Homo sapiens: one gene and its partners. The protein of the gene in region 1 interacts with the protein of each later gene in a biochemical or structural test. Each region holds a gene or a part of one and is shown in the gene's direction. Other genes may lie near its edges.

Region 1 (4,169 bases):
AAAAAGTCCTTAGTCTCACAGCCTTTATGATTTGTTTGGCTCCTGTCATACATGATGAAGACACTAATTATGATGACAAATATATATACATATACATGTGTACGTGTGTGCATGTGTGTGTAATTTTTGTACACAGACTATGTACCAAGCATTGTGCTAGGAACTTTACGTTTATTTAATCCTCACAATGTTTCCTCATATATTTGGTATTAATCTCATTTTACAGATAGGACGACTGATTCTCAGAGAGGTTAAGTCACTTGCCCAGGAATATACAGCTAGTTTAACTGGGGAAGGCCTGGATGTGAAAATTCTTTCCAGTAAATCAGTGTCTTGACATGAAAGCATGTACCGCTCATCAACCTGTTCTCCACCGCCCTCCTCTATCCTAAATGGGCAGCCCTGTTGAAGAATCACAGCCAAAGCCAGTCTTGCCCCCCGGGGCCAGAGGAATCCATCTGCCCCTGCCTACCAGAGCGGGAGGAACGCAGGCTCTCAATGCCTGCTTCAGCAAGGGAGGAGAGAATCGCCCAGAGCTGAGCGGCGTCGTAGGGTGGTGGTCCTGACCGGTCAAGGCCCCTTCTCCTCGTGAACTGGGGGCCAGGGAGCCCTTCTCCCTGTCCCCCCGGCACCACAGCGCTGTAGAAGTGAAATCCCGGCTCCAAGGTCACCCTCTCCCGAGCCTGGAGCTGGAAAGCCACGGGGACTCCGGGGACTCCCCCAAGGCCCGGACTAGCCTGGCACCCACCCCTCACCACTAACCCACTCCGCCTGGGCGCTGGTTCTGTGCGCTCCCGCGGCGCAGTCGCTCCGCTGCAAGAGCGCTTTCGCGCGCCGCCACCGCCCAGAGCCGGGACCAAAGCAGTCCTCGGGCACCGGCTCCCCGAGGGACACACACCCCCCCGCGCCCCGAGTCGAGGGGTTGAGAGAAGGGCGGTCGGGGAGCCCCTGGGCCTGCCGTCAGTCACCCGGATTTGTAACTGGAGAAGGGTGCGGGTCCCGGAGGGACATCTCCAGCTGGCACCTAACTCCTCGGATCCCGGACTGGGAGCCCGAGCTCGGATATTGCAACGGCTGCCCCGTGGGCAAACCGACCCTGGTTTCCGACTCCGGCCACTGGCAGCCTCGCGCCCCAGACCCTTCCCGGGCACGGAAGCGGGTCAGGTCGCCCTGCTCAGCCTCCGGAACGGCGGCGGCACAAACCCCGGCCGCTCCCAGCAGCCCCGACGAGACCCCGGGCAGCGCCTGCCGCCGGGTGGCCTCCCTCTGGGGCTGACCCCCTCGCGCCCCCGCGCGTCTGTCTGCGTTTCTGAGCCTGCTCTGACAGTGATGTAACAAGGCCAGGCTCGCGCCGCGTCCCCTCTTTCCCAGACTCAGTGCTCCCTCCTCCTCCCGCGCCCCGCGCTCTGCGCGCTGAGCTGGCGCCGGGCTCCGCTTGCACAGCACCGGGACCGACGGGCACTGCTGGGAGAGCCGCTCTCCCAGGTTCCACCTCCCCGATGCAGAGTCCGTGGGGGAAACCAGGCTTTCCTCCCAGAACCAAGGGAGCGAGCCGAGGGGGCAGCTGCTGTGGGGGCTTCTGAGGAGACAGCCTGGCTTCTTTCCCTACTTCCTGGAGAGGGCAGGAAACCTCAGGTACCTCGTTGACCCCAGCCGGAGCGTGTTGATATGAGAGAGAGACGGAGGTTGCAATAGTGAGAGGAAGAGAGGGAGGGCACAAGAAAGGGAGGGAGGGAGAGGGGACGGAGAGAAAGAGTAGAAATAGAAACAGGGAGAGATTGCAAGAGAAACGCAGAGAGAGAGATAGAGAGATTGCAAGAGAGATACAGAGACAGAGATCAAGACTGAAAGTCAAGAAGCAAGTCGGAGACAAAGGGCAAGAGAAAGACAAGAGTTGATGGGTGGGAGCTTGACTTGGATTTTTTTTTAACGCACTGTGGTTTCATCTCTGACAGAATAGAGGAACGCTGCTCCCTGGTCAGCAAGCAGCCCCCAACCTGGATGGAGTGAAACATGCGGCCTGATGACATTAACCCGAGGACTGGGCTGGTGGTGGCCCTGGTCAGTGTCTTCCTCGTCTTTGGTTTCATGTTCACCGTCTCTGGGATGAAAGGGGAGACTTTGGGAAACATCCCCCTCCTGGCCATCGGGCCAGCCATCTGCCTACCAGGCATCGCAGCCATTGCCCTGGCCAGGAAAACCGAGGGATGCACCAAGTGGCCAGAGAACGAGCTGCTGTGGGTCCGCAAATTGCCCTGCTTCCGGAAACCCAAAGACAAGGAGGTGGTAGAGCTGCTGAGGACCCCTTCAGACCTAGAATCCGGCAAGGGGAGCTCAGATGAGCTGGCTAAGAAGGCGGGCCTCAGGGGGAAGCCTCCCCCACAAAGCCAGGGTGAGGTGTCCGTGGCCAGCTCCATCAACAGCCCCACACCCACGGAGGAAGGAGAATGCCAGAGCCTCGTCCAGAATGGGCATCAGGAGGAGACGTCCAGATACCTGGACGGCTACTGCCCCTCGGGCAGTTCCCTCACCTACAGTGCCTTGGACGTCAAGTGCTCAGCAAGGGACAGATCTGAGTGCCCTGAGCCTGAGGATAGCATCTTCTTTGTGCCCCAGGACAGTATCATCGTTTGCTCCTACAAGCAGAACAGCCCGTATGACAGATACTGTTGTTATATCAATCAGATACAAGGCAGGTGGGACCACGAGACCATCGTCTAATCTCTGCCTACAAAGGTGGCTGGATTGATAGAATATGACTAAGCCCAGCTCCCCGTGGAAGCAAATTGCTCTGCTTGGAGAGCCTTCACACTGTTAGAAATTGACCTGGTATGTGATGGGTGTGATAACCTCTGGTACCCGAGAGTCATGTAAATAGGCATGTTGGGGACACATTTTAGGGAAGGGCGATGAGGGTTAAGGACACTGGAAGAGGCAGTGGGTAGGAAAGGAAGCTACTCCAGTTGCTTCTTAACAATTTACACAATGTTAAATGTTTTGTAAAATAACCCAAAAAGTGCTATCCAGAACCAGCTGAGAGCAAGATAAATCTAGAGTGGGCTGCAGATGTGAGGCATCAAATGATGCATGAGCTGACCACAGGGAAACTGAGCTGCTTTATGTTTGAATAAGTTGAAAATAAAATTAATGATCCGTTATATAAAGTAATTTTTGCCTGGTTAAAAGCTTATCACACTTGGTATTTGCTGAAAGAAAAAAAAATCAAGATACAAGAGTTAAACCCTCCTTAGATGGGATGGTTTTTGGGAAAAGGGTAGTTAAAGAGAGTTGGATTATGTAACTGAGTCTTGTGGCATTATTGTCTGACAAGATCATGGTCTCTAATAAAGTAAAATAAGTGTGAGCAGCTATGTGAAAAGTTAACATTTTTAGATGGCTATGTTACTTCTTAAACTCTTCGTTTAAATCCATTTATTGCATCTTTATCTGAAATGGGTTTTTTCTAAACATTTACTATCATTCATGTATTATTTCCTTACCAGGTGCAACATTATTTGAAATGATACTTTCATAGATTGGAATTTGTTTTCATCAAGACAAAATGAATTTTACATATATATCCAAGTCTTTAACATTGGCAGACATGTACTGATAATTACCATTCCTACATACCTTTTAAAATCTGAAAACTATAAAGTCTACACATTAGCCTTGAACATTGCACATAATTTGTATGAAATGCAATGGTTAAACCTTTGGAAGTGTCATTATTTGTACATTTGTTCAACTCCTCTCACAGACTGTAAATGCCAGTGAAACAAGAACTCATCTACTAAATTTAACTGAAGCCTAGATTTTATTAAGCTCACCTGATCAGTGAACATTACATGATAAAAGTCTCTTTATTTCATACATTTTTGCTGCTGAGGAAAACAACAAATCACAATGATATCCTAAAATGTGCTTTCTATTTCACTTGCTCAACTGCAATAGATAAGAAGGCTATCAAGCAGAATGCCATTTGATCCCCGGTGAAGAAAAATATGAATTATATATAGGAATGGTGATAGAGTTCATCTTGAAGATCAGAAGTATTTTGTATCCTTCAAAGAATGATCATTTTAAGTGATCATATAGTCTTAGTCACTTTCTCCCAAAAGGGGAATTGAGGACAAAAATTTGGGCATATATGTTTTGTGTATTTCAAT
Region 2 (3,500 bases), on another chromosome or scaffold:
ATGAAACCCCATCTCTACTAAAATACAAAAATATTAGCCGGGCATGGAGGCATACATCTGTAATCCCAGCTACTCGGGAGACTGAGATAGGAGAATTGCTTGAACCTGGGAGGCGGAGGTTGCAGCGAGCCGAGATCATGCCTCTGCACTTCAGCCTGAGGGACAGAGCGAGACTCCATCTCAAAAAAAAAAAAGAAAACTTGACTTTGAAATGATTATAGATTCATAGGAAGCTGCAGAGATAGTACAGGGGGGTCCTATGTACTCTTCTCCCTGCTTCCCCTCATGGTTGCACCTTGCATGAGTATAATATCAAAGCTAGCATATTGACATTGGTACTGTGTGTGTGTGTGTGTGTGTGTGTGTGTGTGTGTGTGTGTGGTTGTGTGTGGTTAAACACATGTTGTTCTGTGTAACCACCACCGTAATGAAGATACGTAGCTGTTCTATCAGCACTGAGGTCTCCCTCCCACTGCCCATTTGTAGTAACACCCCCTGCTCCCTCCCATCCCTGCCCCCTGGCAGCTGATTTTTTCTCCATCTCTGTGATGTTGTCCTTTTGAGAATGTTACAGACATGGAATCATATAGTATGTGACCTTTGGAGCTGGGCTGTTTTGATTCCGCACCATGCCTGCAAGATCCACCCAAGAGGCTGCGTGTGCTGGCTGCTTGTTACTTATCGTTGCTGAGCAGTGTTCTGCAATGTGGGTGTATCACAGTTTGGTCATTCACCGGTTGCACATATACTTCTTAAGAAGGTCTGCACATAGCTGTGAGCAGAGATTCCGGGAGCAGGGTTGAGAGGTTCTTTGTGAACACTCACAGGGCCCCACTTCGCGTGGTACTTTCTCTACAAGGCCTTTCCTATCCATGGTCTTGTTTTTAGTCCCCCGCTCTCCCGAGCCACATGCATGTATTTATCTTCCATTTCCTCTGTGGAGGCAAGGAGCTGGGAAGTTCTGAGCCAAGGTCCCACGCCACATGGCCGGGCACAGCAGTGCCAAGATGTTCCCTCCGGGTCCTCGGTGTTCTGATCCCAGAAGGACATGCTCCTCCCCTAGCCTGCTGTGAAGGCTTATGTGTTCCTCTACCTCAGAATCCCCTTAGTTGGACTCCTTGGGCCTCACCAGAAAGACCTCTATCCTTTGCCAACTCCTGACTTTGGCACCTTGCATTTGGTGACTGTCTAGCACAGGAGGTTAGGTAGGCAGAGATCCTGACTGGTAGGCCTGAGGCCGCTCTGCCTGTGGCCTGACATGCTCTCTGTCCTGCTCTAGATCAATGGCATTGCACTGGACAACAAGTCTCTGAATGAATGTGAATCTCTGCTGCGCAGCTGCCAGGACTCCCTGACCCTGTCCCTCCTGAAGGTAAGGGCTGGACCTGGCTCTGCTCTCACGGTCAGGAGTATGGGCAGAGCCCCGGCTCCACATAGCCATGCTACTCCTTGGGGTCACAGGATCCTTGAGAACAGGGTGGGCATTTACTGAGTGCAGAGGGGGCAGGAACCCTGACTGGACGCTGGTCTGAAATCAAAAAACAGCAGTCAAGGCCATGTTGGGCACAGTTGGGTACATTTGAATCTGGACCCGATAATTAGATGATCTTAGGGAATTGTTGCCAGTTTTCCTAGGTATGATGATGGCATTGGGGTTGTTATACAGGAGAATGGCTTTATTTGGGGGAGGTACAAGCTAAAGTTGTTAGAAGTGATGTGTCATGGCCGGGCATGGTTGCTCATGCCTGTAACCCCAACACTTTGGGAGGCCAAGGCAGTCGAATCACTTGAGCCCAGCAACACAGCGAGACCTTGCCTCTACAGAAAATACAAAAAGCCTGGGAGGTCGAGGTGGCAGTGAGTTGTGATTGTGCCACTGCACTCCAGCCTGGGTGACAAAGTGAGACCCTATCTCAAAAATGAAAGGAAGAAGCTGGGTGCAATGGCTCATGCCTGTAATCCCAGCACTTTGGGAGGCGGGTGGATCACCTGAGGTCGGGAGTTCGAGACCAGCCTTGACCAACATGGAGAAACCCCGTCTCTACTAAAAATACAAAAATAGCCGGATGTGATGGTGCATTCCTGTAATCCCAGCTACTCAGGAGACTGAGGCAGGAGAATCGCTTGAACCCAGGAGGCGGAGGTTGCAGTGAGCTGAGATCACGCCTTTGCACTCCAGCCTGGGCAATAAGAGCGAACCTCTGTCTCAAAAAAAAAAAAAAAAAGGAAGGGAAGTGACATGTCATGATATTTGTAACTTGCTTTCCAGTGTTCTGTAGTATCATTATAGACAAAAAGACAATTTAGTGAAATATTTTTGAATCTAGATGGTACATTTATGGACATTTATTATACTTTTCTACATATTTGAAAAGTTTAATAATAGGAAGTTAGAAAAAATAGGCCGAATTTAGAAAACATCTCTTAATGAAATGGCTGGGCCTATTTTTTCTAACTTTCTATTAAGAGATGTTTTCTAAATTAACTATTTTCAAATTATTTGACTTTTTTGGAAGCAGTTTTATGTTTACAGAAAAGTTGGGCTGATACAGAATTCTTAGCACTCTCTCAACCACCCCATCACCACCATCCCCACTCCTGTCCCCAAGTTTCCCCAATTTTGGCATTTTGCGTTAGTGTAGTTAGTACATGCGTTATAATTAGTGAGCCAATGTGGATGCATTAGTATTAACTATAATGCATAGTTTACATTAAGGTTCAGTCTTGGTGTATTTTCTGTGAGTTTTGATGCAGGTGATGACATGTACTACCATTGTAATATCATACAGAGTAGTTTCACTGCTCTAAAAATTCCCTATGCTCCCCATATTTATGCAAGCCCCTGGCAACAACTGATCCTTTTACTGCCTCCATGCTTTTGTGTTTTCCAGAATGCCATAGAGTTGGAATCACAGAGTGTATAGAATGGCTTCTTCATTTGCTAATATACACTTAAGGTTCCTGCACGTTGTTTCAGTTCTTTTTAGTGCTAATTTATATTCCGTTGTCTGGGTGTACCACAAGAGATATATTTTTAACAATGAATTTTTACTTTTATGTTTAATATTTAAAAAAAATATTCAAGACATTATGCAGGTAATTTCCTTCTTTTTGAGACAGAGTCTCATTGTGTCGCCCAGACTGGAGTGCAGTGGCGTGATCTTAGTTCACTGCAACCTCCACCTCCGGGTTCAAGCGATTCTCCTGCCTCAGCCTCCCAAGTAGCTGGGACTACAGGTGCATGCCACCGTGCCTGGCTTATTTTTGTAATTTTTGTATAGATGGGGTTTCACCATATCGGTCAGGCTGGTCTCGAACTCCTGACCTCGTGACCCGCCTGCCTCAGCCTACCAAAGCGCTGGGATTACAGGCATGAGCCACTGTGCCCGGCCCAGATAATTTCAGAAAGTGTTCAAAGTTAAGAAAACTTTGACTCTTCTTTGAGTTCAGAGTGACCAGAGCCATGAGAAAACTTATCCATTAGGGAGAAGCATATGTGT
Region 3 (3,500 bases), on another chromosome or scaffold:
CACCTTTCTGAAATTTTTTAAAGGCAAAAGTTATAATATACTGTACTTCCTCAGTTCTGATTAGTTATCTATTATAGTACCATTTACTTAAATCATATCCTTTAAGGAAAAGTATAAAAACACTCCTTTAAATGTATATAGCCACTATGAAGTATACTGAGATCTACAACTTACTTTGAAATGAATTTTTTAAAAAAAGATGAGTGATGAATAGATAAATGGCTATGTGATAAAGGAAATATAGCAAAATACTCATTGTGAAATCTAGGTGCTATTTATATGGATGTCTATTGTATAATTCTTTCAGCTTTTCTATATATTTGAAGGTTTTCATATTTTAGGAATTAAAATATTAAACAACTTTCATCATAGAGTTAAGAAAATGGACCAAATTATAATTTATGAACTGATAACAGTGATCTTAGGCTTAGCTTAAAATTTTGATGCAGAATAATTTGGTAGAAAAAAATATTCATTATTTGCAATGTTTTCGTCTACATAAGAAAGGCCCTTCACTATGTATACAGTTTTTGTTGAACAGCCACTAGCCTTAAAAGACTACACAGTATTAACCTCACATATTCATTTAAATGAATAAAGGGACAGGTAATGGAGATCTAGCAGATTGGACTAAATTATTACTGATTCTAGGAAAATCTTTGAGAAAAAAATGTTATATATCCCTAAAACAAGTCTTTTTCCCTTCAGATTTGGTGCTTTTTTCCCCACAATTGAGGGTTCTATTTTGGCAGGTTTCTGCTAATCAAGGTCTTATTATACTTGTTTTAGCAAAATACATAATACATTTTGGGTAATAAAGTTGACTGTAACCCCAAATGAAACATAGTGCCCATTAGCTGACTATATATACATAAACACTATGTGGCAACCTAGGAAAATGGTTTTGATTTTATGTGGAGCAAGAACAGCTGAAATGATTCTATGGTCTCCACCTTGGTGATTGAAACCATATACAAAAGCACACATAATGGAGAAAGCAATGGAGGAAATGTCTAAATGGGATTGGGTTGAGGTAGTAAGAGAATAGTGTGGGTGATTTTTGTTTTCTTTCCTGGCCTCCTCACGATTTTCTGTTAGATGGTTATGGTGACATCAGTAATTGGCACACTAATGGATAAGTATGCATTTAGGGGGTCAAGTCAGTGTCTGCACACAGGTGACCCCTGGGTCTTTCTTTCAGGGTAGTCAGCAGAGTGCACACAGCAGCTGTCATCCCTCCTTCGCTCCTGTCATCACTGGCCTGCAAAACCTGGTTGGCACAAAAAGAGTTTCAGATCCTTCCCAGAAAAATTCAGGTATTACACGGACACACCCAGAGCAAAACTATCCTGTTACCCAAATTAAAAAAAAAAAATGTGTTTTTTAAAAACCAGTCTTCTTTAATATAAATGTTTTTTAATTTTTTGAGCTTGGCCACATAAGCTGAGCTTTCTGAAAGGCATGTTCTGAAGGTAGGAAAGCCATAGAGATTCCTTCAGTGGTGGCCAGGCATGGTGGCTCACACCTGTAATCCCAGCACTTTGGGACGGCTGTGGCGGGCGGATCACCTGAGGTCAGGAGATCGAGACCATCCTGGCTAACCCCGTGAAACCCCGTCTCTATTAAAATACAAAAAAAAATTAGCCGGGCGTGGTGGCATACGCCTGTAGTCCCAGCTACTCAGGAGGCTGAGGCAGGAGAATTGCTTGAAACTGGCGGGGGTGGTGGAGGTTGCAGTGAGCCAAGATCGTGCCACTGCACTCCAGCCTGGGTGACAGAGCAAGACTCCGTCTCCAGAAAAAAAAAAAGAAATTCCTTCAGTGGCACAACACAAAGCACCTGAAAAACAGAAAAGCAGAAAGCTGGAGTGCATGGTAAAATAAAATTACTTACAAAGAGAAAATTAATAAATTACAGGTCACTGGAGAAAGGTCAGAAGTGTGTATACCTTCTATGGGAAAATTGGGCCAGTTAAAAGAAAAAAAAAAGTGTGTATATCCTTGGGGGCAGGGTGGGACAAGGGGTCCTTTTAAGTCTTTTGTTGAATGGAGGGTTATCTTTGATTAAGGTAGAAAAAAATGTACAATGAAACACAAATGACTCAGCCGGGCCCGGTGGCTCATGCCTGTAATCTTAGCACTTTGGGAGGCCAAGGCAGGCGGATCACCTGAGGTCAGGAGTTTGAGAGCAGCCTGGCCAACATGGAGAAACCTCGCCTGTACTAAAAATACAAAAATTAGCCGGGCATGGTGGCACATGCCTATAATCCCAGCTACTTGGGAGGCTGAGGCAGGAGAATCGCTTGAACCCAAGAGGCAGAGATGGCAGTGAGCTAAGATCGGACCACTGCACTCCAGCCTGGGCGACAGAGTGAGACTCCATCTAAAAAAAAAAAAAAAAAAAAAACCACACACACACACAAAAATGAGTCATCCTCCAAGCATTTACTCACCATGTTCCAGGCAGCTGCTGCTATATAGCCCATCCACTTTTGTCAGACCAAATGGTTATGGCCACATTGATCTCAAACAGAGAGCACTTCTTTAAAATAGAGGACACAGCAGGCCGGGCACGGTGGCTCACGCCTGTAATCCCAACACTTTGGGAGGCCGAGGCAGGTGGATCACTTGAGGTCGAGAGTTTGAGACCAGCCTGGCCAACATGGTGAAACCCCGTCTCTACTAAAAATACAAAAATTAGCCGGGCGTGGTGGCAGGCACCTGTAATCCCAGCTATTTGGAGGCAGAGGCAGAAGAATTGCTTGAATCTGGGAGGCAGAGGTTGCAGTGAGCTGAGATGGTGCCACTGCACTCCAGCCTGGGTGACAAAGCGAGACTCTGTGTCAAAAAAAAAAAAAAGAGGACATGGCCCCTGGTGACTTGGCTACCAGCTTGGATGCTGAGGAAGGGTACAATACCTGCTTGCTTTAGTGTCTTCTCTTGAAAGACCTAGAAAATGAAACCATTTTTCATGGGGCAATATTATATGCTAAATATATTATTTTTTAATATTAAAAAGTTAATTGTGTTGCTTCTTTATAGGCACAGATATGGAACCAAGGACTGTTGAGATAAACAGGGTAAGTCAGTCATTTTGCTGTATGTATTTTTCTGGTTTGTGTTGGATTTGCACTAAATGTACATTTTCCCCAATACAGTTTATTGGATTGTGAGTGTGCTCTTTCAAGTTACTGAGATAAAAATATGGTCTAAATAACATCAATAAATAGACTTAGAAAAGTACAGTAGAGCACAGAGATGACCTCTATGAATTTTTTGGCAAATCTCATCCACTATATTCTGTGCTATGTGTAAGTTTTATTTTTATTTATTTATTTTTTCAATCTTAGTCTTTTAACCTGTACATGTAAAGTTTTATAAAACAAAAATGGTATCATGTGGCACATACTAAATAAGTATTTTTTGAGAGCATATAGTATGATTTTTATCGATTTCATAGTACTCCATCTTATGAATGTGCTATAAGTTTCTTTTTTTTTT
Region 4 (4,190 bases), on another chromosome or scaffold:
GGAGTACAGTTGCACGACCACAGCTCACTGCAGCCTTGACCTCTCCGGCTCAAGCCATCCTCCCACCTCAGTCTCCCTAGAAGCTGGGACAGGTGTGCCCCACCAAACCTGGTTAATTTTTATTTTTTTAAATTTTTTTGTAGAGACAGGGTCTTGCCGTGTTGCTGGGGCTGGTCTAGAATTCCTGGGCTCAACTGATCCTCCTGACTCAGCCTCCCAAAGTGCCGGGATTCCAGGCGTGAGCCACGTGTCCGGCCCCTAGAAAATGACAGAGAGTGGTGGGGATGTCTGGGAGAACAGCATTGCAGACAGGGCCCTGAGGCAAGGCCCTGAGTTAGGAGCAAGGAGCACAGCCTGGCAGACTGGGGGGCAGGTGAGGAAAGGGCAGGAGGAGTTGGGGTCAGAGAGGGAGTTGGGGCCATTCTAGGGGTGGCCTTGTAGGCATTGTAAGGATCTGGGTTTTCACTGGTGGTGAGGTGGGGACGCCATGGACAGCATGAGAAATGGTCTGGTCCGGCGTGGAGAATGCACTCCACCGGGAGGGCGTCAGGGGGAGCCTGGCTAGGAAGCTGGTGGGAGGCTGGGAATCCAGGTCCCGGACTCAGCTCTTCTTTTGCATTGACTTGGCCCTTGGCCCGCCCCAAACTTGAGGTTTGAACTGTTGAGGTCAGAACCTACCATGAACTCCAGCCTGGAGGAAAGATTTCTAGGAAGGCCTTGAAGTTCAGTTATAACCTGAGTGATGGTCTCATTAGCATTATAAAAGTTCCAGGATGGGGTTCTGCAGCACTGGGCCCGGGCAGTGGTCCAGATGCTGACGAGTGGTGTAGCGTCGGGCAAGTCTTCTCACCTACTGAGCAGACTCAGTTACTTCATCTGTAAAATGGGACTAAACGTCCCGGTTGCCTCAGCATCAAATGAGATCGTTCGAAAGCACCTTTTAAACATCATTACCGATTACAAAAAGCAAATGGGAAGTCGGAGCCGACCTCAGAGGGCTGACTTGGCACAGCACTTCAAATTTCTCGTTTTACAAAGCACGAGGCGCGAGTTTGTCTCGCTGTCAGGACCTGCTTCCCTCTCACCTAGCACCCGCCCCGGGCCCGAGAGCCGCGGTGCGGCCGTGCGTACAGGAGGGAGGGAGGCGGTGTGGGGTCCCGGGCAGAGCTGCTGAGAGCCCCGGCCCCGCATCTGACTCGCGCTCTCTCGGCGGGACTCCGGGCCAGGGCCCCCAGGCCGGCGCGCAGGGCGGGGAGCGGCTGCGGGCGGGAGGACGGGCGGGGCGGCGGGCGGCTACGCGGCCTGGGCGGAGCCGCCCCCGCCCTGGCCCTCGCGGTTGCCCTGCCCCCGCCAGCCCCAGGCTCCCCGGGCCCGCGCCGCGCCGCTCTTTCTCCGACAGCCGCCGGGGGTGCCCTGCAAGCTGTTCCGCGCGTCCTGCCCGTCTGTCCCCGCGGGTCGTCGCCCGCCACAGCCGCGCCATGACCACCCAGCAGATAGACCTCCAGGGCCCGGGGCCGTGGGGCTTCCGCCTCGTGGGCGGCAAGGACTTCGAGCAGCCTCTCGCCATTTCCCGGGTAAGAGCAGCTGGGACGTGCGTGGAAGCGGGGCGCTATGGGAGGTGATATGCGGAGACTGGGGCCCCGCGGGCGCGGTCGGGGACGGAGTCGGAACCGCAGCCGGGCGCGTCCAGGTGCGCTGTTAGTTGAGCGCTCTCCGCGCGCCCGGGCCCCGCCGCTCCCCGCCGCCCCTTCGCGGAGGCTGCGCTCCCGGGCTGGTCGGCCCGCCGCGGGCGCGCTCCGTGTCCGCCAGAAAAAAAGAAGGCAGTTTTCGTTCTTTGGCCCCGGAAGCGCGGCGGGGCGGGTGTTAGTTCTTTGTCAACCAGCGAGGGGACGAGGGTCCCCGCAGATCCCGCGCGCTGGGAGATGGCACTTCTCCCTTCTTCCCAGATCGCAGTGCAGCCGAACGCAACAGGAAAGACCTGGAAAGTGAGGTGGGGTGGGTGGGAAGTTTACTGGGGTGGGGGGCAAGTGGGATTAACCTAAAAAAACAACCGAAACACGCTCTTTGGACTTGACCCACGGCCGAGGCTCGCCCCTCGAATGGCTTTTGGAGAATGTGCTGGATTCGGGAAATAAACACAACAAACAAACTCAAGTAAACCCTCTTGGTCATTCTCCCCTCTGCAGAACGTGGCCCCGCCGTCATTCTTCCTAGCATTCCCAGATTATCTCTTTCCCCTCCCCGCACCAGCCCTTTTTTCTCAGGGCATGAGTAGATACTGCGATGGGGTGTCCACCTGGGGTGGGGTTGAGGTGCTTGAAATCTAAGAGGGGCTTCGGATCTTTAGAAGGACTCACGTTGAATCAGGGGCCACCAGAACCATTGCCCCCCTAATAAAGTGAAACCCCCAGGGAGACCCAGACTCAGTGTTCAGAGGTCTGGGCTTTGGCCATTTAATCTGGCCAAACACAGGTTGATGTCCCACTAAGAGATGTCACGTTCAGTGCTTGGGCACCAAGAAGAGACTCAGTAAGTACCTCGAATGAGGAAAGGGAGAAAAAGAAGTCCCCTTTCTCCCCACCCATGGCCACTCCTTGCCTGTAGGCGGCACATTCCATTCTTGGGCTCATCTGCCTGCTGAAGCTGCCCTTCAGCTTGTCTCCCAGACTTTCTAAACATCCTTCTTTTTCACTTGGGGTTGGGGGAAGGGTGGAGAAGAAAGGGAAATATCCTTATGGATCCTTTTGACTCAAGCTCCTGCGTCCAGCAGCTGAAGGAGTTTGGTGGGAGGTGCAGGAGAAGAATTGGTGGCCTCCTCTTGACTTGTCTGCCAGCCACAGTCCTACCCATGCTTCTTTCCCGGTTGGCCTGGCCCAGTGAGGAGGTCTTCTCTATCTCACCCCCCTAAAAGAGTAGGCGGGCCAGTTTTTGGGCCTTATCTTCCACCTGTTTGCCTCGTCCCACAGAGACCTCTGATTATTCTCAAAGGTACACACTGCCTTTCCAGCCACCAGCCTAATTCCTCAAGCGCAGGAACTGTGCCTTCCCCAGAATCGTCCCCGAGCCTGGTAGCAGACCTGTACCTGGCCGGGCTGGGTAAATCCTTGCAGGCTTATTAATAAATGCTTGTCCAGGGAGGACATTGTGTCTGCACATTTCAACTCGCTTACCTCATAGTCCATTTGTCCCTGTTCTTTGTGTCTATAATTAACCTGTCAGCCCTCTCCACTTCTGAGATTTATATATGACATGAAACCCTTTTTTAAGTAGTGGAGGATGTATTGGCAATCTGTTAAAAGGGCAGTTACTGCCTTTCACTTTAGCTGCTTTTAAAAGTCTTAATGCATGAGTGAATGATGGAATGGGGTGGAAAACACCACACTGTGAATTCATTGGTTTTTACCTTCATATATTCACTCATTTATTATTTATATTATTTATTTATGGCGTGTGCACGTGTTTAATGAGCACGTATCATATTCCAGAAACTGTGCAAACGCCTCAGAAATGAGAGGGCACAGCTCCATTCTCAAGGTGTTCATGGTCTAGTGATGGAAACTAATCTTTATAATGCCCTTGGCAGGTGCTTTAATTGAAAAGTGGAAGTGACTCAGAAGAGGTAACATTTTCATGCTGACAGTAATTTATTTGTTTCTCTTCAGCTCCTTATTAATACATGGAAAAATTGTGAGCCTGTTCACCTCATGGGAATGGGAAAGTCATTGTCATAAAGGGACCCTGGTGTGGCCATCTGAGATCTGGTGCTGGTCCAGTGTCTTCTTGCTTGAGCTGTACCTGGGGTGAATCTTCCACTGTCTGAGGCTACTTAAAAAAAAAAACCTCTGCAGTGGGGATAGCACCAGCCCTTGGCTGTGAGTTAAGGTATGTGAGAGTGCTCCGTAAATAGTGATAGTGAGGAAATGTGAGCACTGACAAAGAGCTGTACACACTTTCTGATTGGTAGGTATGCTACATTATTTATCATCCTGGGCAATTTGCTGGTATAGTTTTGTATATGATAGACTTTGAGTCTCCACACCAAAGCAAACCATAAAATTAGGCTGGGAGAGGAGTGCCTTTTATTTAAATAACCATGTTTGCTTTCTCTTGCATGAATTATTGTGGTATTGGCTCCAGTCTTTTGCTAAACTGCTAAAGCTTCTTAATATAATGCTAATCTTATGTACTTG
Region 5 (3,500 bases), 4.9 Mb from region 1:
CTCTGGCTTTCCCTGGAAAAAGACACCACTCCAGACTGTCCAGGGCTCCCCTGGTACCTGTGAATGTGCTGTTAGTTCCTGGTCTGGTTAGAAGATGATGTCTCTGTGGAGATACATACTTGGCCTCTTTCTTTCTCCCTGGGGTGAGGGACATTTTATGTATAGGAGATGGAAGAATAGACGGTCTCTTTCTCAAGCTCATTCCTGGTTATTTTCAGTACTTAGCTCTTTGCAAAAACTGCGTAATAAGTGTCTTAGTGAGAGTGTGCCTTGTTTATGTGCTGAAAACCTAGATTCACACATATGTTTCCAGATATTTTAGCTACCAGCATAGACCCTCAAACAAGACTGCCAGCTCCGGAGATGATCAAGTACAGCCTTTGTGTGGTGCAGGAATTCCCCTAGCATACCCAGCCTCCCTCTGCTTGGACCTACCAACCCCCACCACCTTCCTATTCCATCCTCAGTTGGCTCTGGTTATTACAAAGTTCTTCATTATTCCAAGCCAAAAATCTTCCTCTCGGCAATGGTTGCCCCATTGGCCCGATCCTGTCCTTTGAAGCCCCACACACAAAAAATCCATTTCTTCTTCCCTATGACAGCTAGTTAGGCCACTTGGACCTTCAAAGACAGGGATCAGGCCCCCACATCTTCACTTCTTTAGGCAGAATGCCCACTTTATCTGGCCCCCTGAAAAGCTAAGAATGGGACACCGCTGTGCAGGTGGGGGTCTGATCAGCCCAGACAGGAGCAAGCCCACTGCAGCCTCACTTCGGAATCTATATTTGCGTTAGCACAGCCTGAGGCCAGTTAGGTCCCGGTGGGTCCCCCTTCTGAGCTGTGCACTGGGCCACTACGGAACTGCATGCACTTTGGCGTCAGAGAGACCCGAGTGTCCTGGCCCAGTGGTTGACGTGGGGTCGGGTGAGTGAGCCCCCTCTCTGGGACTCAGATCCCTCATCTGTCTGACTACTTCTTAGGTGCTGTATTTTTTCCTGTAAATGCTGTAACAAATCACCTCAATCTTGGCTTAAAACAGCAGAACTGTGTCCTTGAACAGTTCTGGAGGCCAGAAGTACAAAATCGAGATGTTGGTAGTGCTGCTGTCCCACTGGAGTCTCTAAGGGGAATCCTTCCTTTGTCACTTCCAGCTTCTGGTGCCCACTGGCATTTCTTGACTTGTGGCTGCATCACTCCAGTCTCTGCCTCCCTGGTCACGTTGCCTCCTCCTGTCTGTTTCAAATCTTTGTTTCACTCTTATAAGGACACTTGTCCTGAGATTTAGGGTCCATCTGGATAATCCAAGGATAAGCACGTCATCTAAAGATCATTAATTTAATTATAGGTGTAAAAATCCTTTTTCCAAATAAGATCACATTTACAGGTTCCTGGGATTGGGACTTGGAATTATTTATTTATTTATTTATTTTTGAGACTGGGTTTGGCTCTGTCACCCAGGCTGGAGTGCAGTGGCATGATCAAGCTCACTGCAGTGCTGATCTCCTGGGCTCAAGTGATCCTCCCACCTCAGCCTTCTAAATTGCTGGGACTATAGGCGCACACCAACTGGCTAATTTTTAAATTTTATTTTTAGTAGAGATGAGGCCTTGCTATGTTGCTCAGACTGATCTCAAACTCCTGAGCTTAAGCAGTCCTCCTGTCCCAGCCTCCCAAAGTGCTGGGATGACGGGTGTGAGCTACTACATCCAGCCAAGACTTGGATATCTTTTTAGGGTGGCCGCCATTCAGCCATTGGCTCTCTACTTTCTCTACTTTTGCAACTCCCTTTTGTTTCTATTGTATTTGAACCCAGCTCTCCAGGGTCACTGGCCTCAGATCCTCAGGCCACATGTCTTCTGTCTCCTCCTTCCTTCAGCATCCTGGCTGCTGCTCTGAAGGGTGCCGGGGCTGTTCCTATCACTCCTGTTGTACAGATGTGGGTGGGGCCCTCAGGGATTAGGCTGCCTAGGAGAAAGCTCAGGTCTTTCTGGTGCATACCCTCATTTCCACCAGCATGCTATGGCGAGTCCAGTGGAGGTTTTGTCAGTGGGAAGGAGAAGCTGTGGCTATTAAAATATTCATTGCCGGTTCTCAGACGTAGGGAAGATCCCACAGTGAATGTGCTCTGGACAAAGAAGGGACACATAGTGGAAGACTTATGTCTTCACATTTTCCCACTAATTTAGACTGAGATTGGCTCACTGAATTTGAGGGAAATTATATTCTCAGTGCCCAAATACTCTGTAAAAAATCAGGAAATGCTCCTTGACAACCCTGTAAGGGCATAGTAGTATCATCTTCTTGCCCTACAACTAGCCTGTTTCAGAAGTTCCATGGTCCTTTAAGTGTGATCTCCAGTCTGCTGCTGGCTTCTGGGCTCTCCAAATGCAACTCCCACTAAAATGTGCTTTTCTCCACAAAGAGAGTGCGCTGCTTTGTTTGCAGTTGACTTTTCAAGCACTAAAAAAAAAAAAAAAAAAACAAAACTGAGGGGCAAGCAGAAGAGCTGCGTCTGGTGAAGCTAGTAGTGGAGCTGAGAGAAAGCAGGGGGAGGGTAGTGGCCTGGGAAGTTCTGGACACTGAGCAGCTCCAGACTCTCCACTCATTGCTGCCCCCAGGATTCCTGTCCGACGGCATCCTCCTAGATGGCTGCTGCACTCATTTCAATGTGCTTTGCTAAGAAAGGCCTGTGTGGGGATAGGGGCTGGGGAGGAGAGGCGGGGAGGGAGGAGAGAGATGAATCAGACAGTCCCTGCCCCACCTGCGGCTGGAAGTAAGTCAGTGCTGGGCAGGGTGCTGTGCTTTGCAGAGACCCTTGGGAGCCTAGCAAGGGCTGGCCATGCCTTGCAGGGAGATCTAGGAGGGCTTCTGGGAGGGACTGGCATTTGAACCGAGCCCTAGTGGGTGACTAGGAGATAAAGAAGAGAAAGATGGATAGAACAGTGTATCCAAAGTTGACCTCAGGTGGCCCCCTTCCTGGTCATCATCCGATGGAGCTGCACTGGAAGAAGCTCAGGTCTTACAGGGACCTTAAGGACCATCTAGTAAGGAAGATATTCAGACTGCACTGCTTAGAGACCTCCGCTTCTCATTTCTCTTAAAGAACAGTGATTTTAAAGTAGGTTTAAACAATGGGTTTAAAGAACAGTGATTTTCCATTTTGACAAGGCTTGTTTGGTATAGCCACTTCAAAATATCCCCACATCAAAATATGATGCTTTATCTGGGATATCTTTTCCAGACTTTGGGAGCCTTCCCTCCTGCACTTTCATTTCTGCAAGGCAATACTCCCCAGACAGTGTGGTCATGGGGTGTTGCTGTGTAACCTTCCCCACTTGACTGTGAGCTTCCTGGGCAGGGACCGAGCCTTGCTGCTCATTCAGTACGGAGCCCAGAAGGAGGCCTGGGGGGTACAGTGTTGACCGATGAAATGAATGAATGCATGGCTATGACTACTTCCTTAGCTGCATCTGGCTCCCAGCTGCCTTCATTGGTCTCTA
Region 6 (3,500 bases), on another chromosome or scaffold:
ATAGGGCAGCTGGAGATATGTGGGACTTTTAAAGAAAAATGTATGAGAAAGTGTGGGGAAAATGATTCTCTGAGCAGACTGGGGGCCATATGCTTAGGAAAGGAAAAGTGAAAGGTGAGGGATTCGTTTAGAGAAATTCTGTGGTGGAACTCAGAGGGGTACATGTTGGGAGAAGTTTTAACTTAGGAAAATACTAAGCTGATTTACTTAAATGCATATTTCAAGGATAAATACTTTATATTTTGTTCTGTAGGTCATTTTTACCATGAAGTGACTCTGGCAGGGATTCTTTACCTAAGTGGGCATCAGAATCCTTTGGAGCTATCCTACGCTAAAGGATTCTAATTTAGTAGGTCTGGTATGGGGCAGGAGCATGTTTATATTGTTAAAATCCCCAGGAGCCACCATTTGAGTGTAAAATAATACATCCTGTGGAATATTCCATTTTAATAATGAAATCATTCAACAAAGCTTTTGAGGTTGTATATAATTTAGGTAACTCTAATGCTGGAACTTGGTCTCTCACCAGGTCAATACTTCTGCACATACCTCATTGATCCCCATTGCTTTACTCTCTTGCATACTCTTCCCTCCTCTGCCTTCTTGTTTCTTTTCTACTAATGAATATTCAGGCATGGTTCTCCAAGGAAGCCATCATTAGGTGGCCTCATCCATAATTTATCTTTTCAGTACAGAACAAATTATAACACAGTGCTTATACAACTGGCAAGTACACTCATCACATGAGTAGATGATTTATGTGTTTTCGTTCACATGAGCCTTGAACAAATATACCCAGTTTTACTAGTTGAGCTTCCTTGTTTTTTCTTCTTGCTATCAAGAGGTTGGCGTTTAGTCATAGTTAATGCTGATGTAAACATTTGATAATATTATAGATACCACCATGTTTCAAGGTCTATGTTAAATGCTCTCCACACATTATCTCATCTGCTTGTTGCAGATTTTAAAATTATGTTTTTTAAGTCACTAAAATCTTTTTATGATTGTATTAGTTTTCTGTGACTGCTGTGACAAATTGCCACAGACTTAGTGGCTTATAAATAAATGTATTCTCTTACGATTCTGAAGGCCAGACATTTGAAATCAGTATAATTGGGCCAAAATCAAGGTGTCAACAGGGACATTTTTCCTCCAAAGAATCTAAGGGAGAACTTACTTGTTGCCTTTTCCAGTTTCTGGTGGCTTCTGGCATTCCTTGGCTTGCGGCTACACACTGCAGTCTTCAAGGCTGGCATTTGAAATCTTTCAGCTCTGTGTCTTTCATTTCCCCACGTGTGTGTGTGTGTGTGTGTGTGTGTGTGTGTGTGTGTGTGTGTGTCAGAGAGAAAGGGAAATCTCCCTCTGTGAAGGACACTTGTGAAGGCATTTAGTGCTCTCTGGAATAACCTCCCCATCACAAGATCTTTAATCACACCTGTGAAACTTTCCAAATGCGGTGACATTCATAGGTGTCAGGAATTAAGACATAGATATCTTGTGGAGGGGGAGACTATTATTCAGCCTACCATAATGGTAATTTAAATAGTTCAGAAAAGGGAGGAGGAGTTGATAAGTCTTTTTGTCCCATCTTCATCACTTTCTAAGTCAGTATTTCTCAATCAGGGATGATTTTGCTGAACAATCTCCAGGAATATTTGGCTGTCACAACTGGGAAGGTGTTGCTACTACTATGTATAAGGTATAGGTCAGGGATGCTGCAAACAGTGCACAGGGCAGCCCCCCTCAACAAGGAGTCATCCAGCCCAAAATGTCAGTAGTGATGAAGCCGAGAAACGTTATTCTAAAGGCAACTATTGCCAATAGCTTTTTTGGGGTATCCAGAAAAAATTTTGATGCCTCTATTACGAGTAAAAGCCTTTAATCTGATTTGATCAGAACGGGTGGTAGTTTTGGCTGACTGAAAGTGATTTAAGTGAAGAGTCATAAACGATTGACACATATCTTAAATAATATATTACTTAAAAATCTACATTCATGTGTCAGTCTTTTCTTTAAGTATGTGTCTTTTGCCAGGAACTCTGGGTCATCATTCTTATATAAGCCAATGCATTATCACTGATTACCAGCTTTGGAGTGAGAACTTAAAAGTTTGTGAAGCAGTCTGCATATAAGATCTAGATTTCTAATGTTTTATGACTCCTCAATTGTTTATACTTGTTTTACCCTTAATTTTACAGCAGTTTATCATTTTGTTTTGTTGTTTTGTCACTTGCTTTTTTGGGGTCTTCCCAAAGCATCAACTGATTTTCATATAAAGAATATAACTCCCATCATCTTGTATCAAATACAGCATATGATGCATATAAAGAAAATGAAATCCTATTTTGTAATAATGGCTTGCTAAGGAATTGGGAATACTAATTCTAGTCGCAGCTCATTTGAACAGCATCCAATCTGGTGATATGGTGAGGGCTAATGTCAGTTGTTTACAAATTCTTGAATGTTTCAGAACATTTTGTTTTAGTTCTGTAATGGCAGAGTTTATAAATAATCTATAGAATATTACTATAAATACTTTATTGGTATTACCAGCTTAGTGCTTGCGTTACTTTTCTAAAAGAAACATTGATTTTTTTTTCATTAACTGTAATAAATATTATTTGAAGTTTGAATGTGGCTATCTTTGAGTGGATTTGTCTTCTTTTTATTTACTAGAATATGTATGTCTATATGCACATAATAAAATGTTATATGGAAAACCTAACTTTAGTTACATAAATAAAAAATTATTTGCTTTTTTTATTCCTCTTTTAATATCCTTCTATCTTCTATCCTTGTATAAGGAGCTAGAAGGTATAAGAAACTCCAATAATTGGGTTTCTTATAAAGAGCTTTGATATAAGAAACTCAGATAATTGAGTAAAGAAGTTTAATTTATTAAAGTTGCTTATTTTTGAAATGATAGTCATGCTTTTTTTTTTTTTTTTTTTTTTTTTTGAGACAGAGTCTTGCTCTGTCACCCAGGCTGCTAGAGTGCAGTGGCGTGATCTCGGCTCACTGCAACCTCTGCCTCCCGGATTCAAGTGATTCTCCTGCCTCAGCTTCCTGAGTGGCTGGGATTACAGATGTGTGCCACCACGCCCAGCTAATTTTTGTATTTTTAGTAGAGAGGGTTTCACCATGTTGGCCAGGATGGTCCTGAACTCCTGACCTCGTGATCTGCCTGCCTTGGCCTCCCAAAGTGCTGGGATTACAAGCGTGAGCCACCGTGCCTGGAAATCATTCATATTTTTATACAAATCAATTTAAATGTTTTTTATTTTTTAGCTAGTAATCTTTTGGAATGGAGGTCAGTAAAAAAAAATGTAAGCCCTATTTTTAAAAGGTTGGACTATCTTGTGAGACAAAGTAGTCTCAGTTTGCCATCACCAACCAATCCTTAGCATTAAGCTCTTGAAAACAACTAGGTAGAGAAATTTTCCGTGAAGGAATTTAATGATCTTTATAAAGTTTTACTATTCACCCAATTAAAATGTTAG
Region 7 (3,500 bases), on another chromosome or scaffold:
TCCCCATTATTGACAGCTTTCTCCTCGTATTGAAAGCTGCAAAGAGAAACTTTCTTATTTGACATGATGGTGTATAATAAAAGGGAAGAGGACTGAAACGATGAGAAGGACCAGTGGCCTGGTGGAGGGGAGCCATCCAGAGGGTCAGAGGCATGGGGTCCTGCCCCACTGATCTCCTAAGTTGGGGCAATGCTCTTGAGACCTGGCCGATCGCAGATCCACGGGAAGCTACAGGGTAGTGCCACAAGGTCCCAGGAGACTTTCCGCCAGCTTCCCTCAACGGTGACATCTTAGGTAATGGGTGCAAAACCAGAACCAGGAAGTTGATGTGGGTACGAGCACAGAACCGCCTTCCCCAATTTATCGTGTGTGTGTGTGCGCTTCGGCACCTTCTAACAAGCACCCGGGATTACCTTCTCAGAGTGTGCACCACGCAGCTTCTGGAACACAGAGCTTGGCTGTTCTCCTTGCTGCCAGGCTAGTTGCAGAGTCAGATAATCAGACAGACAGGCTCCGCTGGGCCCGCGCAAAAGCAGAAGAGGGGTGTGCAGGTGTCTCAGTGTGCGCGGCGTGGGGTGGAGCTCGGCTAGTGGCTTCACTTCTCCAGGCCTGAGTTCCCCCGTGTGTCTCTACTGGGAGATGAGATGGAACTGGATCAAGGATGTCAGAGTCCTTAGCTGGGCTCCAGTTGTCTGCAGATCTCTCTCCATCAAATGCATCAGTTTGTGTGTGGTGCATATGGTGTAGTAGTTTTTACCAGGTGTCTGCAGCTTTTACCAGATTTTTAGAGGCCATGTGACCATCAGATCATTGGGCTCAACGACCTTGGAGGCTGTGCTCAGCTGCACATGATGAGCACCCATGCCTGCCCTGGGGGAACCTCTGGTCCCTGGCACAGCTGAGCCTCTGTTCCGTGTACTCCAGCCCTGGGTCTCAGCACAGGACTGCCCTGGTCTTGGTCTGCACTGGTGACCTGCCTGAGCCTTCACAGTCCTGGTGGCTTTGCACAGATGTGCATGCCTTCCCTGGGACCCCCCTGCCAGGATCTGACTCCGGTCCCCGCTGAAGGTAGACGGCTAAGCCTCCCTCTCTGTGTCTTCTCCTTCTCTCTCCTAGAAAAAGCTCCCTGTGTTGTTGCTGGGTCACTCGGCCGACCTGCGGCCTGGGGAGTTTGTGGTGGCCATCGGCAGTCCCTTCGCCCTACAGAACACAGTGACAACGGGCATCGTCAGCACTGCCCAGCGGGAGGGCAGGGAGCTGGGCCTCCGGGACTCCGACATGGACTACATCCAGACGGATGCCATCATCAACGTGAGTCCCAGGGACAGGAGGCCGGGGCACCTGCCATCTGTGCCCAAGACCTCAACCTCGAGGTGGTCTCTGACTCGGCTTGCCCCCCTCCCCAGAGCCATTCTGGCACTCGACACATCCACTTGCTAGAAAGTTCTCTCTTTACATTCGGTGGAGCTCTAACCCTGTGACTTCCACCCCAGGGTGCCAGGCACGCTGGGAGTCAGAGGCTGCTGTCCTCGCTCGGGCAGCCTTTCAGAGAAACAGAGGCATGGCCACAGCCCGCAAACACCTTTGCCCAGCTTACACACCCTGGCCAACATTGCTTTTCATTATTATTGTGATTATGTTGGTGGCACGTTTAGCATTCACAAAGCACTTCACCCAGATGCCCCAGATCACGTCCATCCAGCTTTGCCGCAGCTCAGGCACTTGGCTGGAATCCGAGTCTTTGTAGAGGGCCCCCCCAGGCCAGCAGGATGGGAAGTAATACCCCCATTCTCCATGCACCAGGCGGTGCTGCCTGGCCTCCGGGGTGTAGATGCCGAAGCGTATGGTTTGTGCAGAGAACAGTGACAGTCAGACCTCGGTCATCAGGCAGCCATCCACATGGCCTTCTTATCTGTGAAATGGGGGCAGCACTGAGGCCTTTCGATGCTGCTGAGGATGAGACCTGCTTATGTGTCTCTGCACTGGTTAGAGGCAGATCTGGAGAAGGGGCTCCAGGAAGCCTCAGGCGGGGTCAGGCACAGCTAATGCTGTTTCCTCCCCTTGCAGTACGGGAACTCCGGGGGACCACTGGTGAACCTGGTAAGTGTCCCCTAGAGCCAAAATCTCTCAGGTTTCTGGGGTTCTTCTCACATGGGGGTGCTCAGCCTTGAGGTGGGACAGGGCCCACAATATGGTCCTAGAACATTTACACCAACAGTCGGGAGTGCAGCTGGGCCGGAGGCCTGGAAGGAGGAAAGACCAAGGCTGCCCCAAGCGCCTCGGGGATGCTAGTGGCCACCAGGAATGAGGACTCACCCATGAGCAGCAGCTCAGTCCAGGGCCATGTGCCTGTCAGGGGAGCTGGGGCAAGGGAGACGCAGGTGTGGGGCTGCTCACCTCAGCCCTCCCTGCCCTGGATGTACACACAGGATGACAGGGGCACCCTCATTCTCCCCTTCCCAGTTGTGTCTTGAGCCTCAAAGTCAAGCTCAGCCTCATCCCAGGTGAGATTTTTCCAGAATAAACCAGGAAGCTCAGTTCAGAGCTCCTAGGCCCTGAAGGATCGGACGGTCCCACCCCTGAAGCTCCTATCCATGGCTGGGGAGGTGTCCAGATGTGAACAAGCCCAAGCACCATGTGAGCCACATGAGATAGCTCTGGAGGGACGCTGGGCAGGAAGACCTGGCAGCTGATGTGAGATCAGGGAGGGCTTCCTGGAGGTGAGAGCATTATACAACAGCCATCGAGATTGAGGAGGACTGGGTACAGGAAGAAGAAATCCCAGGGAGAAGGCACAACATGAGCATTGCAGGAGGCTCTCAGAGGCTTAGGGAGGGGGAGGTCAGACAAGGGGACAATGAAAGGGGCTGGTGGCCCATGTCCTGCTGCCTCAGGCCTCGTGTGCAGATGGGGCTTCACCCTATGTGCCCAAGATGTCTCCCAGGCTTTTGGCAGGGCTGAGGCCGTGCCCTGGTTTCAAGGAAGCTCGTGTGTGTGGTTTAGGCTGGAGGCCAGAAAGCCAGGCCCAGGAGGCTGCTCCGCATGGTCCAGGCAGTAGAGATGGGCACAGAGGGCCGAGGGTGGACACAGAACTCAATCTACTGGATCTCACACTCGGATGCTCTTCCTGCCTCCTGAGCTTCCAGGGACCAGGAGGACAAAGGGTGCCTTGACCCAAAGCTCTGCCCCAGGCCCCAGAGGGATCCCTGGTGAGCTGGCCAGGCCCTGACAGGGAGGGCAGGGCTAGGGGTATAAGCCAGGCTGTGGGGTGGGGCTCCTTTCCAGGAGTGTGCCTGAGTGTGAGGTCCCCAGGGGCCAGGTCAGATCCTGCCCAAGTGGTACCAGCCTCATGGGGGGCAGGGCAGGTTTGGAGGGTCTCCAAAGAGAGGGATGGGGGGGTCAAGGAGCTCCCCTGGTCCCACCTGCCAGCCCCCCACTTCTGGAAGGTAGGGATAGACAGGGTCTCTGTCCCCGACAGGCCTTACCATGTTCCTCCCTCT

What was found.
Region 2: the proteins of TMEM215 (region 1) and DLG5 interact in a test that uses a peptide from one of them, tested with the Homo sapiens proteins (one large-scale study listed by IntAct).
Region 3: the proteins of TMEM215 (region 1) and PATJ interact in a test that uses a peptide from one of them, tested with the Homo sapiens proteins (one large-scale study listed by IntAct).
Region 4: the proteins of TMEM215 (region 1) and PDLIM1 interact in a test that uses a peptide from one of them, tested with the Homo sapiens proteins (one large-scale study listed by IntAct).
Region 5: the proteins of TMEM215 (region 1) and FRMPD1 interact in a test that uses a peptide from one of them, tested with the Homo sapiens proteins (one large-scale study listed by IntAct).
Region 6: the proteins of TMEM215 (region 1) and PALS2 interact in a test that uses a peptide from one of them, tested with the Homo sapiens proteins (one large-scale study listed by IntAct).
Region 7: the proteins of TMEM215 (region 1) and HTRA3 interact in a test that uses a peptide from one of them, tested with the Homo sapiens proteins (one large-scale study listed by IntAct).

Annotation. Positions count from the first base shown.
Region 1 is NC_000009.12:32,782,171-32,786,339, forward strand, and holds the start of TMEM215 (transmembrane protein 215), read left to right. Parts: upstream 1-1,369; 5' UTR 1,370-1,635; intron 1,636-1,955; 5' UTR 1,956-2,013; coding exon 2,014-2,721; 3' UTR 2,722-4,169.
Region 2 is NC_000010.11:77,822,256-77,825,755, reverse strand, and holds part of DLG5 (disks large homolog 5), read left to right. Parts: intron 1-1,279; coding exon 1,280-1,372; intron 1,373-3,500. UniProt on the Homo sapiens protein: Acts as a regulator of the Hippo signaling pathway.
Region 3 is NC_000001.11:62,119,980-62,123,479, forward strand, and holds part of PATJ (inaD-like protein), read left to right. Parts: intron 1-1,201; coding exon 1,202-1,316; intron 1,317-3,041; coding exon 3,042-3,079; intron 3,080-3,500.
Region 4 is NC_000010.11:95,288,204-95,292,393, reverse strand, and holds the start of PDLIM1 (PDZ and LIM domain protein 1), read left to right. Parts: upstream 1-1,390; 5' UTR 1,391-1,478; coding exon 1,479-1,574; intron 1,575-4,190. UniProt on the Homo sapiens protein: Cytoskeletal protein that may act as an adapter that brings other proteins (like kinases) to the cytoskeleton. Involved in assembly, disassembly and directioning of stress fibers in fibroblasts.
Region 5 is NC_000009.12:37,657,454-37,660,953, forward strand, and holds part of FRMPD1 (FERM and PDZ domain-containing protein 1), read left to right. Parts: intron 1-3,500. UniProt on the Homo sapiens protein: Stabilizes membrane-bound GPSM1, and thereby promotes its interaction with GNAI1.
Region 6 is NC_000007.14:24,579,952-24,583,451, forward strand, and holds part of PALS2 (protein PALS2), read left to right. Parts: intron 1-3,500.
Region 7 is NC_000004.12:8,290,254-8,293,753, forward strand, and holds part of HTRA3 (serine protease HTRA3 isoform 1 precursor), read left to right. Parts: intron 1-1,116; coding exon 1,117-1,311; intron 1,312-2,067; coding exon 2,068-2,100; intron 2,101-3,500. UniProt on the Homo sapiens protein: Serine protease that cleaves beta-casein/CSN2 as well as several extracellular matrix (ECM) proteoglycans such as decorin/DCN, biglycan/BGN and fibronectin/FN1.